2 linked regions of the Homo sapiens genome follow. The protein of the gene in region 2 purifies or fractionates together with the protein of the main gene of each other region. This does not show direct contact. Each region holds a gene or a part of one and is shown on either strand. Other genes may lie near its edges.

Region 1 (3,809 bases), on a different chromosome or scaffold from region 2:
GTGTGCTACTTCCTAGAGGGAAAGTCTCTGAACTCCCTGACCTCCTTCCTAAACATTACATCTACTTCTCAAGTATCTTCCCTTAAAAACTATTTTCTTTTCCGTATTTCCCTCAAGCTTGTATCCACTCTTTCTATTTTCCTTGAAAGCTAACTCTCTTGAAAAAGAATAGTCTTCATTTGCTACTTCCACTATCTCAGCAGTCAATGCCCTGGGTAGAGAAGTGAGACCCAGCATCTGGTACCACTGGTCTTATACTATTTTCTTCCAGACAATTCATGAATTTCTAATTACTAGAGTCCAGTGGACACTAGACCATATTCATCTTATTCAGTCTCTACAGCACTTGACATGATTTATGCCTCCTTCTCTTCTGTAAGTTTTCTTCTCCCTTGGCTTCCATGACTTCTCCTCTCTCCTGATTGTCTGGCTTTCTCTCTGACCACTTCGTTGACTGCCAATGTCTGATCTCTGGGAATCTTCTTCCTCTATGTATTTGGGCAACCTCATCGACATCTATGTCTTCTATATACCTTTCATATATGGACAACTCCTAAATCTCCAAACTAGACATCTTTTTGGGTTCTAGATTTAACAGGTACTGAACAGCTCCACTTAGAAATACTATAAGCACCTCAAGTTTAACATACTAATAATTTATAACAACCCCCTCTTACCCTAACCTGCTCTTTCTCTTGAACTCCTTATCTTAATGAATGACACCGACACCCCATTTTCACCACCAAGTCCTTTTGGGCCTACTTCAACAACATCTATTTTTAAAACAGATGATACATCTCTAACTTGCAAATGTATTAGTAATAATATGCTTTTAAAAGGAAAAAAAAACTAACATAACCCCAAATATGCTTATTTCAATTCTAGCTGTCTGTTGCTCCTCAGAAACTGAAAATGCCCCAGATAACTAAGTACTTAGTAACCTGCTTATTGTGATGACTGAGAATGAATTAAAATTCTATATCCCACCTTAGCAACTTACTTAAAAATTAAAACTAACGAAACTTAAACACTAGAAAATATTTAGAATACAGACAAAAATGTAGGTTGACTATTTCTAAAATCAAGTCTGCTCGTTTGACATTCTACACTCACTTAAGAGTCCATTAGTTTCTTTCCCCTAACCATAAAGTTTGTGAAAATATTAAAAACGTCAGTAGTACCTCCCGACCTCCCAAACCATTAAATACAACCAATTTAACCAAAGATGGTATTTCTCTTCCTCAAATAGCTCAATATATAAAAAAACACTTAATTACCTGAAGGGCCATTCAACATTGTATCTTCTGAAATGAACTCTATTCCTAGCTTTCTTCCATTTTCCATATAGGCTTTCCATAGGCTCTTATTGGGAAGAACATTGTAATAATCATGTGCTCCACCTTTAATTTCCACCTAATAAAAAATTGCAAAACAAATTTTGAAATAAAAAACTCAAATTCACTATCTAATTTTCAAACCAGTGATTGTTCTCTAATAGGAAGAGGTTTTAAGAGAAGATACTTTCCCTTCCAGATATAAACACTCTCAAATCTCTTACCTTAAAAAAGAAAAAAGATTTATTTTCTATAACGAGAGTTCCTAGGACTCTCTTTTATGCTATATATACACTAAACCCCACAATGTCACCAAGCTCTATACTAGCTACCAAGTGTCAACTTCAGTCACCTAGATAGGGTATGAGAAGGGCCCAGAAATTTTTATTTTATTTTTGAGATGGAGTCTCACTCTGTTGCCCAGGCTGGAGTGCAGTGGTGTGATCTCAGCTCACCACAACCTCCGCCTCCCAGGTTCAAATGATTCTCCTGCCTTAGCCTCCCAAGTAGCTGGGATTACAGGCGCCTGCCACCAAGCCCAGCTAATTGTTTTTGTATTTTAGTAGAGATGGGGTTTTGCCATGTTGGCCAGGCTGGCCTCAAACTCCTGACTTCATGTGATCTGCCCGTCTCGGCCTCCCAAAGTGCTGGGATTACAGGCATGAGCCACTGCACCCAGCCTAATTTTTATTTTAACCAGCACCTCAAAGTAATTCTGACATAGGTGACCCAAAAACCACACTCTGAGGAACACTGCTCTAGGATTCAGTCTCCAAAAAAAAGAAATTAAGCTTTACTAATATTCAATATGCAAACTGACACTGACATCACTGCCTGGTGTGAGAGGTAGAAAAGTACTCTGAGGGAAATGTAGAAGATTTGCAATGAGGAAGGGTTGACAACAGTCCTCATTTATTAATTTCAGTATATAAAGATACGGAAGCAGCTTTTATGTGCCCAGTTAAGTGGATTTACAGATTCAGTTTTGATTAAATAAAAATTGGCAATATTCCCTCAAACCAATATTAGCAAAAGCCAATCATAAAATGGCAGAGATGACATTTCTTTTATTCTTAGCAACATCTACGGTAGAAATTATGACAACCAAATCAGACCTTACAAGTCAGCCAAAATATAAGAAATTACTAAAAGATTATTTAAAATATAGATTTAGGCCAGGCAAGGTGGCTCACACCTGCAATCCCAGAACTTTGGGAGGCCAAAGCACGAGGATCACTTGAGCCCAGGAGTTTGAGACCAGCCTGGGCAACACAGGGAGAGCCTATCTCTACAAAAAACTTTAAAAATAAATAAATTAAATTAAATATAGATTCAAATCCAATAACAACAAACCTTACCATAAGGGAATACTGTATACCTTGAGATATTGCCTAATGATAATAGTTCACATCCATAAGTATTTCACAAATAAATATTTATAATTATAAATGAATAAGGGAATAAATATTTAGTTTTTACTGCCCTCAGCTATGGACATTTCACAGTTTTCATTCACTATAACCATCTTCTCTAGTGGCATATGAGAATACATCTTTGCTCCTACATCTGTCCATATGTTTATCGATTAACTACAACACAACACGAGCTTCTATATTCTTATCTTTGCTGACTATATTCCCTAAGAACTTTCAGTCTCTGTCTTTCCCATGCATATCTGAAAGTATGATCAACCTTCAAAGCTCAGTTCAGGTCTACAGTCTTCCACAAAACCTTCCTCCAAGGTTAACAGCCCCAGACCACTCTTTCCCACCTCTGATCCTCACGACACATTCCACACTACTCTCAGGACACGTAACATATGCTTTCTGAGAATTACTGCTACTGTGAGATACTGCTACTACGTGAATCAATCATACATCTCTAGACTAATAAGAACAGAAAAAAATAAGGCAATATAAATGAAGGCTGGGCTCTAAACCCTTCAGAAACATTATCTCATTTAATTCTCACAAGAATCCTAAGATAAATTGTTATTATCTCCATTTTTCAAGCAAGAAAATGGAGAGCCAAAGACACTAAACATTTCTAAAGGTTACAGAATTAGCTAGGCTGAGAGTTATGGGTCAAGATCTTGTCTCTCCAACTAGACTACAGGCTCCCTCTAGGGCAAGATTCTTATCTTGTATAATTCTAAAACTCACTCCACTTTACACAGTACATGATTTTAAATACTAACTTTATAGTTCAAATCAACAAAACCAGTCAGTGTGGTGGCTCACACCTGTAATTCCAGCACTTTGGGAGGCTGAGGTGGGTGGATCACAAGGTCAGGAGTTCGAGACCAGCCTGGCCAACATGATGAAACCTCGTCTCTACTAAAGATACAAAAAAATAGCTGGGTGTGGAGGCAGGCGCCTGTAATCCCAGCTACTCAGGAGGCTGAGGCAGGAGAATTGTTTGAACCTGGGAGGCAGAGGTTGCAGTGAGCTGAGATTGCGCCATTGCACTCCAGCC
Region 2 (4,429 bases):
CCTTCCTTCCTTCTCTCTTTCTCTCTTTCTTTCTCGCTCTCTCTCTTTCTTTTCTCTCCCTCTCTCTCTGTATTTATTTCTTTCTGAGATGGAGTCTTGTTCTGTCACCCAGGCTGGAGTCCAGTGGCGTGATGTCAGCTCACTGCAACCTCCGCCTCCCGGGTTCAAGCAATTCTCCTGCCTCAGCCTCTCAAGTAGCTGGGATTACAGGCACATGCCACCACACCCGGCTAATTTTTGTATTTTTAGTAGAGATGGGGTTTCACCATGTTGGCCAGGCTGATCTCGAACTCCTAACCTCGTGATCCACCCACCTCGGCCTCCCGAAGTGCTGGGGTTACAGGCATGAACCACCACACCCAGGCATGTCCTAGCTATTTTTGAGGCTGAGGTAGGAAGATCACTTGGGCCCAGGAATTTGAGGTTACAGTGAGCTATGACTGGGCCACTGCACTCCAGCCTGGGTCACAGAGTGAGATCCCAATTCCAAAAAAAAAAAAAAAAAGTATGGTTCCCAGCATGGTACTATAAAGCAGGTCCCAGCATTCATGCTACGCTGCTTGGTTTGAATGCCAGTGCTGGCTCTCTGTGTGATCCTAGGCAAGTAACTTAACCTCTGTGTGTCAGTTTCTGCATGTATATAATAAGGTTAATAATTGTACCCATTTTGGCTGGACGCAGTGGCTCATGCCTGTAATCCTAGCACTTTGGGAGGCCGAGGCAGGTGGATCACCTGAGGTCAGGAGTTCAAGACCAGCCTGACCAAAATGGAGAAAACCCATCTCTGCTAAAAATACAAAAAATTAGCTGGGCGTGATGGTGCGCATGCCTGTAATCCCAACTACTCGGGAGGCTGGGGCAGGAGAATCGCTTGAACCTGGGAGGTGGAGGTTGCAGTGAGCTGAGATCACATCATTGCACTCCAGCCTGGGCAACAAGAGCAAAACTCCATCTCAAAATAATAATAATAATAATAACAATAATAATAATTGTACCCATTTTGTGGGGTGGTTATGAGATGAGAGGCTTATCAAGGTTTTAAATCTGCCTGGCACAGGAAATGTTCTGCTTTTCATTGCTTCTGCAGAGATGGGGAGACTAGGGGACCATGCTTGGGATGGGAAGAATGGGTGATCCATTTTACAGTGTAAGCAGCCTCCTCTCCACCCACTGGGTGTCCCCTCCTCCCCCAAGGCTGCTCTCCTACCTCAGCACCCCATTCCCCAGCCTCTATTCATGCCCATCCCCAGTGGGTTCAATAGCTCCTCCCTCCAAGCCCCTTACCTTCTCTCCTCCAGTGCTGAGCCTTAATGGGGGCAGAAAGGGGTCATAAAGAACCCTCTTCAGCTCCACATCCACGGGGCTCTGCCGCTTCCCCACAGCACACAGACTCCACGCTGCATTCACCAGGCCCCAGAAAGGAGGCCCTGGGGGTGGGGTCGGAGTAGGAGGACAAGGAGTCAGAAATAGAGACTGGATCCCAGGGCTGGTATCTGCTGAGTGGGCTGTGGTCTGGACTCCCAGATCCCAGGGGAGGAGGGGCTAGGGACCTAGACTCCTGGGTCTGAGGGAGGACTGGGCTCAGATCCAGAATTCTGGGTCCTAGAAGAATCTTGGAATAGTTTCCAAGTTTAGCAGAGACGGGTTTCACCAAGTTGGCCAGGCTGGTCTTGAACTCCTGACCACAGGTAATCCACCCACCTCGGCCTCCTAAAGTGCTGGGATTTCAAGCGTGAGCCACCGCGCCCAGCCGATCAAACCCATCTTAAGCCACTGTAGATGGAACTACAACTCCCAGCAGGCCCCAGTGCTACCAGCCTACCCCTCTGCTGCCTACCTGCCCCAGAGCCCCGTGGGAGTTGTAGTTCTTTTTTTTAATCGCTCTTATCCCACAGCTGGATTATTATTAATGTGTTGGGGAGAGGAGCTGCAAGAGAAGGCTGGACAAGGTGGGGGACGGGGCCACCCAGCCTCTGGTTCCTAGCAGGAGCCAGGACCTTCCTCTCCCGGCAAACACACACATAATCTCCACCCCCACACTTTCCTTCCACTCACTCCCACTCACTACTTGAAATGCGCATGTATAATGTCCCATGGTGAGCCCCTGGGGTTCAGAAGCTGGCCCGACTCCTGAGGGACAGAGGAGGGGGCTGGGACTCCTGGTCCTGGGGGGGAGGAGGGAGCTGGGAACCCAGGTTCCTGAGTCTGAAGAAGGAGGCGCCGGGAGGGCCGGACTCCTGGGTCCCCGCCTTGGCGGCACCTGGCACGAAGTTTCCCTGGAGATTATCCTTGTAGCTCCACCAGTCCTCGGGGTCAGGTGCTGGTCCGATGTGAGCTGGGAAGAGAGCAGCCTGAATCCCTCTCCTTGGCATCCCCACCTCCACCCTCCCTCGGGGGCTCCTCCCGGGAACCCCAGGTCTTACCTGCTGCCCCCAGTGCAGCCCAGAGTACCAGCGCTCGAGGGGCGCTCAGACGAGCTGCAGCCCCCATCCCCAGGAGGCCTCCGAGGGACCCCTGCCCAACGCCCTGCCCCCCTCTCTCAGCTCCTCTGTCCCCTCCTTCTGGGACCCTGTCCCTCCAGGACTTCCAGCTTTCCTCTCCTCCCCACAGGGAGTCCCAGTTCCCCAAATGCCAAAGCAGCCAGGGACTGAGATCCGCCCTTCAAACCCACTCTTCTTCTCTCTCCCGTCTCTCTGTGTCTTTCCTCTTTCCTCTGCTCTTTTCCCGGAACCCTCCAGTCTCCCTCTAGCTCCTGATCTTCCTACTCCTCTCAGCCTTCTGCTGCCCCCAGGGCTACCTCTTGGTTCCTAACCCACACCTCCTCTCCGTTCTCTTTTCATTAAGCTCTCCCAAGCCACCTAACTCCAGGTCTCCATCCCGCATCTCCTCCTCCTCCTCCCTCTCTCCTTTCCAGCTCCTGCCTCTTCTCCCCTCTCTCCTTCTTCACCTCCTCCCGCCCTCCCTCAGTGTCGGCCTCCAGCTTCGTGCTCTCCCCACCTCCTCCTCTCCTGCCTCTTCTCCCTGTTTCAGTCTCTCTTCTCTCTTGTCCCTTCCTCCCTCCTCCCCCTCCCTCTCTCCTCTCCCGTGGTGTTATTTAATTTTGTTGTTGGGCTGGGGGAGCAGGTGATCTCATAGCGGCAAACACTCCTCGGGTTGGCTTGGGGTGGGATGTGCGAAAGGGCAGGATTCGGAAGGAGGTAGGGGGCTGGTCCTCGGCTCCCAGCCGCGCTGGGGCCACGCGGGCGGGGGTGGCCGGGACACCTGGGGCCGGGAGCAGGCTGTTTCCATCCTCCGCAGCAAGGGGAAGGGGGGGCGCTTAAGGTGGAGCTGGGAGTGGCTTCGGAAGTCTCCATGCTGGGGGCCGCCGGCCTTGGCGGATGCAGGGTCCCCCTGCTCGCTGGGACCCAGGTTGGAGCCGCCCCAGCGCCCGCAGCCCCCCTTCCCCGCCCCAGGGCTCCACTGGGTCTCTGCCTGGGGCTGCCTTAACGGGGCCGGGGGATCCCCTAGGAGCCTGAAGTGCAGTGAGGGCTGCTCGCCTGGAGGGGGAGGCAGAGACCTGGCGAGGGAGAGAGGGGCGGGGAGGAGGAGCCGGGAGGGCAGAGGCGGAGAGCGGGAGGTGAGGACCCACATCTGCGTAGGCTGGGGAGGGGAAGGGAGCCTGAGATGGATACGGAGAGGAAGGGCGGAGGGACAGAAGGTTAGAGAGGCAAGAACAAACCGCCAGGCAGGAGTGAGGAGGAGGGGGAGGAGGTGAAGGAGGAGGGGGAGGAGGGAGAGGAGGGGGAGGGAGAGGAGGGGGAGGAGGGAGAGGAGGAGGGGGAGGGAGAGAGGAAGGAATGAATGAGAGAGATACAGATAGAGGCAGAAAAGGAGATACAGAGACGCAGCGAGACAGACATGGAGACATAGAGACACACACTTAGAGATAGACAGAAACTCAGAGACCAAGCAGCAGATGGGGTGGGGAGAGACAAAAAGAGAGAAAGAGCGATCCAAAGACAGAGAGAGACACCACATTTTTGTATTTGGGGAGAAGAGATGGGGTCATGCTATGTTGCTCAGGCTAGTCTCAAACTCCTGTCCTCAAGGGATCCTCCCACCTTGGCCTCCCAAAGCATTGAGATTACAGGCATGAACAACCATACCCAGCCTCAGAGAGACCACATATTACTGTTGTTGTTGTTATTTATTATTTTTCACCCCGTCTAATGGTAGTGAAACTGCTCATTGTCTTCTTTTATTTTCTTTTTTGAGACAAGCCTTGCAATGTCACCCAGGCTGGAGAGCAGTGGTGCGATCATGGCTTGATCCAGCCTCGACCTCCTGGGCTTAAACACTCCTTCCACCTCAGCCTCCCAAATAGTTGGGACTACAGGCACATGCCACCATGCCAGGCTAATTTTTAAAAATTATTTTTTGTAGAGATGTA

What was found.
Region 1: the proteins of CA11 (region 2) and PM20D2 purify together in Homo sapiens (affinity purification with mass spectrometry, with the first as the bait; one large-scale study listed by BioGRID). This does not show direct contact.

The regions. Positions count from the first base shown.
Region 1 is NC_000006.12:89,155,929-89,159,737, reverse strand, and holds part of PM20D2 (xaa-Arg dipeptidase), read right to left. Parts: intron 1,414-3,809; coding exon 1,278-1,413; intron 1-1,277. UniProt on the Homo sapiens protein: Catalyzes the peptide bond hydrolysis in dipeptides having basic amino acids lysine, ornithine or arginine at C-terminus. Postulated to function in a metabolite repair mechanism by eliminating alternate dipeptide by-products formed during carnosine synthesis.
Region 2 is NC_000019.10:48,643,143-48,647,571, forward strand, and holds the start of CA11 (carbonic anhydrase-related protein 11 precursor), read right to left. Parts: upstream 3,046-4,429; 5' UTR 2,491-3,045; coding exon 2,424-2,490; intron 2,336-2,423; coding exon 2,261-2,335; intron 1,428-2,260; coding exon 1,285-1,427; intron 1-1,284. UniProt on the Homo sapiens protein: Does not have a catalytic activity.